2 linked regions of the Homo sapiens genome follow. The protein of the gene in region 1 purifies or fractionates together with the protein of each later gene. This does not show direct contact. Each region holds a gene or a part of one and is shown in the gene's direction. Other genes may lie near its edges.

Region 1 (3,647 bases):
CTGTTTTTTGTTTTTTGTTTTTTGTGATGAAGTCTCACTCTGGCACCCAGGCTGGAGTGCAGTGGCGTGATCTCGGCTCACTGCAGCCTCTGCCTCCCTAGTTCAACCGATTCTCCTGCCTCAGCCTCCTGAGTATCTAGGACTACAGGTGCACGCCACCACACCCAGCTAATTTTTGTCTTTTTAGTAGAGCTGGGGTTTCTCCATTTTGGCCAGGCTGGTATCGAACTCCTGACCTCAGATGATCCGCCCACCTCAACTTCCCAAAGTGCTGGGATTACGGGCATGAGCCACCGTCCCCAGCCCAGGGTTGTGTTTTTAGTGGATCTGCCTGGGTGTCATGTGGCAGAGGGGTGGAAGGGGACACTGAGGCAGTGGGGAGACCACAGCAGTGGTCCAGGAGAGTTGTGGGGGCTGCAATGAAGCCAGCAGGTAGCAGTGAGAATGAAAAATGGGGGGTGGTGGGAGCCGCACTGAGGAGCAGATTTGATGGCCTTGACTCACTGGCCAGATGCAACGGATGAGAGGCAGGGCAGGGATGAGGCGAGGCAGGTGAGTCGCTGAGGATGCAGTGTAAGGGATTCTTCCCTCTCATGGTCCTGCAAATGCTGACCTGGAGTGTGAAGGAGGAGCCTAGGATGGGTTTAGGTCTGTGGCAAGGCAATGCGGTAAGAGGGGAGATCATTAACCAGGAGCGCAGGCGGCTGCAGTGTGGCAGCATGGACAGCCTCCAGGGCTCAAGGCCTCTTCCTCCTGCCTTGGCCTCTGAGGCTGTGTGGGGCTGGAATGAAGCTCGTGCCTCTCTGGCGGGCCCAACTTGCTCAGCGTCTTTGGGTGACAAAGCCTCACACAGCCCATTCCTTGACCTCCCAAAAGCCACTGTTAACCCCTGTCTGGCTGTGTTCCCAATGATGTGGCTCTTACAGGTGGTCTCCTGCTCCCCAAGTCTGACAGCACCCCCTGCTTTGAGATCCCTCAGGTAGGTCAGCTGTTTCCACTGGGAAAAATTCCAGTGGAGAAGCAGCCAGCTTTTTCCACTGGTTCAAGGTGATTTCAACCTTCCAGGAGGCCCGTGATGAAGCCAGAGGACAACTGGGTACCCTGGGACAGCACCTTCTTCTTATTTTATTTTCATTTTCTAAAATTTCAAATCGGGCACCCCCCCAAACCAGAATAGGTTTTGAAAGGCTGCCGACAGCACCCTCTTGAAAATACATTTTATGTAGTCACAGTTTACACAAATCTGACATTATTTCAGCTTCAGATTCCAAAGCACTGACTAGGGGCTTTCACAGAGTGAGACTGGGGGTACGAGGTTCAAATCTCTCCTCTTTGCTACTCAATAGCTGCATGGCCTTAGGCTGGTCATTCTCAATGTCTTCATTTATTAAATGCGGAGGAGAATAGTCCCTCTTAGGGGGGGATGGAAACCATGGTGTTAAAGGCTTAGCTCAGCATCTAATAGATACTTAGCGCTCCACAAATGTTTGCCAGCCATCCTGGAACATAGGCGGTGTTCCAATATTGTAGATGACAGACCTGAAGGGATTAATTTGCCCAAAGCCTCGAGGTAAGTGGGTAGAACCAAGTCTTCCCGGCCCTCTCCAAAGCTCCTGCTGTGCTGGGCCCGTGCTGTTCCTTCTTGCTGTGCAGTCTGCTCCCTTTGGCTTTTCTTCTGCTTTCCACATCAGCTGAAGATTTAGACCCTTTCCTGCTGCCTGTGTTGAGAGCTGTCTTCCTGAGTTGGAAGCCAGTTAGCTAAAGGCTGGGCTACCTGGTGACTGTATCTTATCTTTCCCAATCCTCAACACCAGCTGGGTCCTGGTTGCCAGGATTAGGTTGCCACCCCCATCCTCCTCCTAGCCCTGGTGGACCAACCTTTCCTGTGTACCCAAAGCAAACAGACCAGTTGCCCTAGATTCCCCGAGGGGCACCCTCTGTGCCTCCCTAGTGTTCCTGCTGACAATAAGAGCCTTGTGCTGGGACCTGAGACACTAGAGGGGAAAACTCCATTCTCCCTGAAAGCCACAAGGCCCCATCTGGGACACATCTGGTGTCCACTCCCAGAAGGACCACAGAGCAGGGAAGCAAAATCTCTCCAGCTAGCAATGTTGTGGACCCTTTGCAAAGCCCACCTCCCAACCCCTCTGTGTCCCCAGGCCATGGAGAGCAAGCTCCTCATCGGGGGCAGGAACATCATGGATCACACCAACGAACAGCAGAAGATGTTGGAACTGAAGAGGCAGGAGATTGCCGAGCAGGTAGGGCCTCCAGGTGCCAGGTCCCCTTGGAGAGTGTGGCCTGCAGCTCATGTCTGGGAGGTGCAGGGCCGTAAACCATGGTGGACTCTGGATCTCTGGAATTACAGTGCTGAGAATCTCAGACATGCCACCCTGGGTCCCACAGGTCTACTAGCCCAGGGTCTTCCCTTTGGCAGGGGCACTGCTAGCTGGTGGGCGAGAGGACGTGATAGCTCTCCATAACATCAGCCTCCACAAGCCACCTGGTACTAATTCCTGGGCCTTCCACAAGGTGGTGTGAGTTCTTTGCCAACTGTATGACTGTTTCCCTAAATCATCAAGAGCCACAGTTTGTTGGTCTTACCAATCAACCATTATACTACTTGGGGAGAGGGTGAGGCAGCTTGGAAGGCAGTGTGATGTGCCTCCATCTGTGTGACTAACGCCTCTGGAGTAGGCCAGCTCTTAGGGGCTGGGGTCTCCATCCACATGGGGCAGAGCCTGGCAAAGGCATGGCCCTGGGAACTGAGAGGAGGGTTCCCAGGGGCTCTGCAGGATTGGGTGGGAGCAGTGGATGTGGGCCATGGGCCATGGTGAAGCCAGGTCCCGAGACAGGCAGAGTGAGCCAGTCCCCTGAGCTTTCCTGGCCCTCCCGAGTATGCACTGCTCCTTTGAGCCACACTGCCCGTCCTTGGCCTAGAAACGTCGTGAGCGGGAGATGCAGCAGGAGATGATGCTCCGGGACGAGGAGACTATGGAGCTCCGGGGCACCTACACATCCCTGCAGCAGGAGGTGGAGGTCAAAACCAAGAAACTCAAGAAGGTGAGACGCTGCAGCAGGACCGGTTAAGGTGTGCTGGAGGCCCAGCAGTCTCTGCCCAAGGGATGTGTGCTTCAGGGACTCCTCCCCATTTGGCTGGAACTGCTGAACCCCTGAGTGACATGGCTTGGCCTCGGGGGTGAGCAACAGGGGGAGGCAGGAGGCGGGGGCTGGGGGTGGAGTAGAGCCTTTTCTCCTGGGCCAGGGTGGGCTATGACAGGCTGCAAACTCTGTCACTTGCAGTATCCAGCGTTACCATCTTCATGGTCCTGGGTGATTACCCCGTTCAGTGTCACCAGTGAGTCACAGTTGGGATAGCTGGGCCTGGAGCAGGGCCAGGGGAATACAGAGAGGCTGAGGAGGAGACTGGAACCCCGGGAAGCTCAGGTGGGGAGTGTAAGGCCCTCAAGGACATGTCAAGGGATGAGAATAGCCGCTCACCAGAACCCTGCAAAGCCCGTGGCAAGGGAAAGACATGTACATGTGAGGGGGGTCTAGGGCAGGAAGCAGCAAAGCTCTAGCTTGGATTCTGGGAAAAACCTGGAGGCCCTTCGGGGTGGGTGATGTGGCTGCCCAGGGGCAGGCCT
Region 2 (3,647 bases), on another chromosome or scaffold:
AAAAAGAAACCCAGCCAAGCGTACCGTCATCTAGGGAGGCTTCAGACGGCTCTGGAAGGAGCTGGGCCTGGGCAGACCCAAGAGCCGTGTGGGGGCTGCCGCGGGAGGGCAGGGCGTTGGGTCCCAGGTGGAGGGCTGAATGGGGCGATGCAGCCGGGTGTTGCAGCACAGTGGGGTGGGAGGAAGTGGGGCTGGGGGCGCTGGTCGGCTGTACCCCGTTAGCCGACACCTGCTGCACGCCAGGACATGTGGATTTCATCCTGGTGACAGGGAGCAAGCAGAGACCCATGCGGTCCCTGGTGGCCACAGTGAGGTGGCCGGATGGTGGTTAGGTCGTGGGCTTATCTGGGAGTGGATGGTAGGGGTGGCTTGGACAGTTGGCGGTATCCCCTGGTCACTTGGGGAGGAGGGGTTGGGGAGGTGTCCAGCTCTGGGAGGCCAGCAGGGTCTGCTGAGCCCTAGGAGGCCAAGGCTTGCAGATGGCGTGGTGGTTGGGGTGAGAGGCTCCCCACTGGGTGCAGGTTCAGCCCTGCTCACCTGGCCTGCTCCCTCTTCAGGCCTCTAGTAGAGTGGGGCATAGGCAGGGGATGGGGGAGGTTGCTTCCTGCTGGTGGGGCCTTGCTCGGCGCCCCCCGGACTCCTGCCAGGAAGAGTGGGTTTGGGAGGCCACCAGCTTCACCGGCTGACCATTTCGGAGTGCACAGCTGAGGGGCTGCTGCGGTCCTGCCTCACTAGAGGGAAGGGCGTAATTGATCTCGTCGTTTTTTTTTTTTTTTTTAATGTTTTTAGAAACAGGGCCCTGCTTCCCTCCCAGGCCAGAGTACAGTGGTGCAGTCACAGCTCATTGCAGCCTCAACCTCCTGGGCTCAAGTGACCCTGCTGAATAGCTGGGACTACAGGTGCATGTCACTGTGCCTGGCTAATTTTTAATTTTTTTGTAGGGACAGGGTCTTGCTTTGTTGCCTAGGCTGGTCTTGAACTTCTGGGCTCAAGTGATCCTCCTGCCTTAGTCTCTTAAAGTGCTGGGATTACAGGTGTGAGCCACTGTGCCCAGCCAAACTCATAGTTAAAGACCAACGTGAGGCTGGGCGTGGTGGCTCATGCCTGTAATCCCAGCACACTGGGAGGCCGAGGCGGGTGGATCACCTGAGGTCAGGAGTTCAAGACCAGCCTTGGCAACATGGCAAAACCCCGTCTCTACTAAAAATACAAAAATTAGCTGGGTGTGGTGGCGAGCGTCTGTAATCCCATCTACTCGGGAGGCTGAGGCAGGAGAATCACTTGAACCCAGGAGGCAGAGGTTAGATCGTGCCATTGTACTCCAGCCTGGGCGACAGAGTGACATTTTGTCTCAAAAAAAAAAAAAAAAAAAGACCAGCGTGGCGGCTGCATGGAGTGAGAGGAGAGGGTCCTGTCTGAGGAAGGGGTGGGGAAGGCGTCCCACTCACTTGCCCACCACTGGCCCAACTGGCAAGCGTGGTTGAGTCACTGTGCCTGGCAGCCTGCCGGCTCCTGGGGATACTGCAGTGAAGGTGAAGAGATGATGAGGCTGGAGCCGCCTTCCAGTGGTGGAGACAGGCAGCCACTGGAGTGCTTGTACATCAGCCAGGAAGGTGCTCCTGGGTGGAAAATGCCTTCTGAGGAACAGGCAGGGGGAGAGCACAGGGCCAGCTGCAGAGAGGTGGTTGGCGAGTGGGAGGGCTTCTCTGAGGAGGTGACCTGAGCAGAGAGGAGCGAATAGGGCTCAGCTCTGAGGCCGAGGTGGAGGTGGGAACGAGCTTACTGTGTTCTGGAGCACAAGGAGGCTGTGGGGCCAGTTCACCATCTGGGAGTGTGGCTTGGAGGGGATGCAGCCAACGGGGCAGAGGGACCAGGTCCTGGGAAAGGGTCTTGTAGGCCACAGGAGGGAACGGGGGGTTGGTTCTGGTTACGTTGGGAAGCCAGGGAGGGACAGGGGAGGACCCTGGGAGGGGCGTGTCCAGGGCCCCGGGGTGTCTGGCAGGCCCGAGTGGGCAGAGTCGGGAGGACCTGTGCGTGAGGCCACTGACGCCAGGCCAAGGAGCGGAGTCCGCAGGCTCTCAAGCAGGCAGGGAGCCCGTGGAGATGTGCGCGGAGGTGAGAGGCCGAGCCTGCGTCCTGGCCTGGTCACTCAGGCGGCTGACCCCAGAGACAGCCACCGTGAGACTCCAAGCTGGCCGCAGGGGAGGTGGGCGTGGCCAGGGCGTCTGCTGAGGAGATGGGAGGCTGGGGCCCAGGAAGCTGTTGAGTGGCTCCCCCAGGTGCCCTCCTGCAAGGCCCACCGTCTCCATGCCTGCCTGCCTGCCTAGGAACTGAGGCCTGCCTGTCCTCTGCCTTGGCCAGTGGGCTTCTGGGCAGGGCCCAGCTTTGTTTCGTTGAACGCTGCAGTGCTCTGGTGAGCCAGTGAGCCCTTCCCAGGCCCTCCTTCAGCCCTCCCGGGTGGCCAAGGCCTCCATCGGCTGGGGTGTTCGTTCCTGGATGCTGGGGTCGTGTGGGCTGTGGATGGGGCAGCCAGGTGGGACTGCTCCTTCATTTGGCTGTTGGGAGTTTTCTTTCCCCATTTTCTGCCCAGCAAAAGCTTAGTTCCAGCTCCACCTCTCCTCTTCAAGGAGACGGCAGTGTCCCAGTGTCCAGCTGGGGACGACTGCCCTGTGGACTTATGCACCAGGGACAGGGGCTTCTGAAAGCTGCCAGGCAGCCCTGCTGCCGCCTCCCTCCCCCGCCGCACTTCAGCCTTGCCGTGCGGCCCAGTGGCCAGCAGAGGGCATGCTTGCCCCTCCTATCGCCTCCGTCCACCCTTTTTTGGTAATCGCGTAATTTCCTTTTTATGTGAAAGAAAGCAGATACCAAGTAATTTGCAGCAATAACCTGCTAATGCTGGGCCAGTATCGAAACTCCCCTGTTCATTTCAAGTGGCAGATAAAACGCTAATACATAATTATCCTTGCAAATTGGATTATTTTAAATAACCAAAAGGCTACGGCCAGGAGAAAGCGATCCCATCTCCCCTGAGTTACTATTGCAGCGTAATTGCCGCGTTCAATCAATTTCCCTGGCATTAGAAATTCCGTCACAATCAACATTAAGCTTTATTCATTGTGATGGCTAAGAGCCGGGCCATTTCTCCTCTTTTTCTTAACTGGCAAAATTAATCAGGGAAAAGATTTTAAACATTTACCCGTGCGAAAGAGGTCAGCCCTGCCACTATATTGCTCAGCAGATAAGGGGGCTAATAAAAAGAAAATTGAATTACTAATGATCACCAAGAACAGAGTATATAAAACCTGGCCATCGCCAGTTCAGGAAAAGGGAGAATCAATTTTCTTGGGACAAGGTGCGTTCATTTTTTATTTTGGCGCATATTATCAGCAATTTAATTTGAGAGGCATAAACAGGAGGAAACAGTTAGGGAATAATGAGCCTGGAGGTGTAAAGTGCCACAGGATATATGCTGTACACAATTTATTTGGCACAACAGATAATCGCTTTAATTGAATTCAAAAGTGCATTGTTCAGCAGCACTGTGGCCGCTCACGCCTGGGGACTGAGACTGTTTGGAAGGTTTCAGCCTGACTCTTCGGTGCCTCTCCTCCCCTCCCTGCCTCTCCCGGCCCTCCGAAGTCCTCTGG

What was found.
Region 2: the proteins of KIF3C (region 1) and ZC3H3 purify together in Homo sapiens (affinity purification with mass spectrometry; one large-scale study listed by BioGRID and IntAct). This does not show direct contact.

Annotation. Positions count from the first base shown.
Region 1 is NC_000002.12:25,954,957-25,958,603, reverse strand, and holds part of KIF3C (kinesin-like protein KIF3C), read left to right. Parts: intron 1-2,159; coding exon 2,160-2,261; intron 2,262-2,940; coding exon 2,941-3,063; intron 3,064-3,647.
Region 2 is NC_000008.11:143,531,411-143,535,057, reverse strand, and holds part of ZC3H3 (zinc finger CCCH domain-containing protein 3), read left to right. Parts: intron 1-3,647. UniProt on the Homo sapiens protein: Required for the export of polyadenylated mRNAs from the nucleus. Enhances ACVR1B-induced SMAD-dependent transcription. Binds to single-stranded DNA but not to double-stranded DNA in vitro. Involved in RNA cleavage.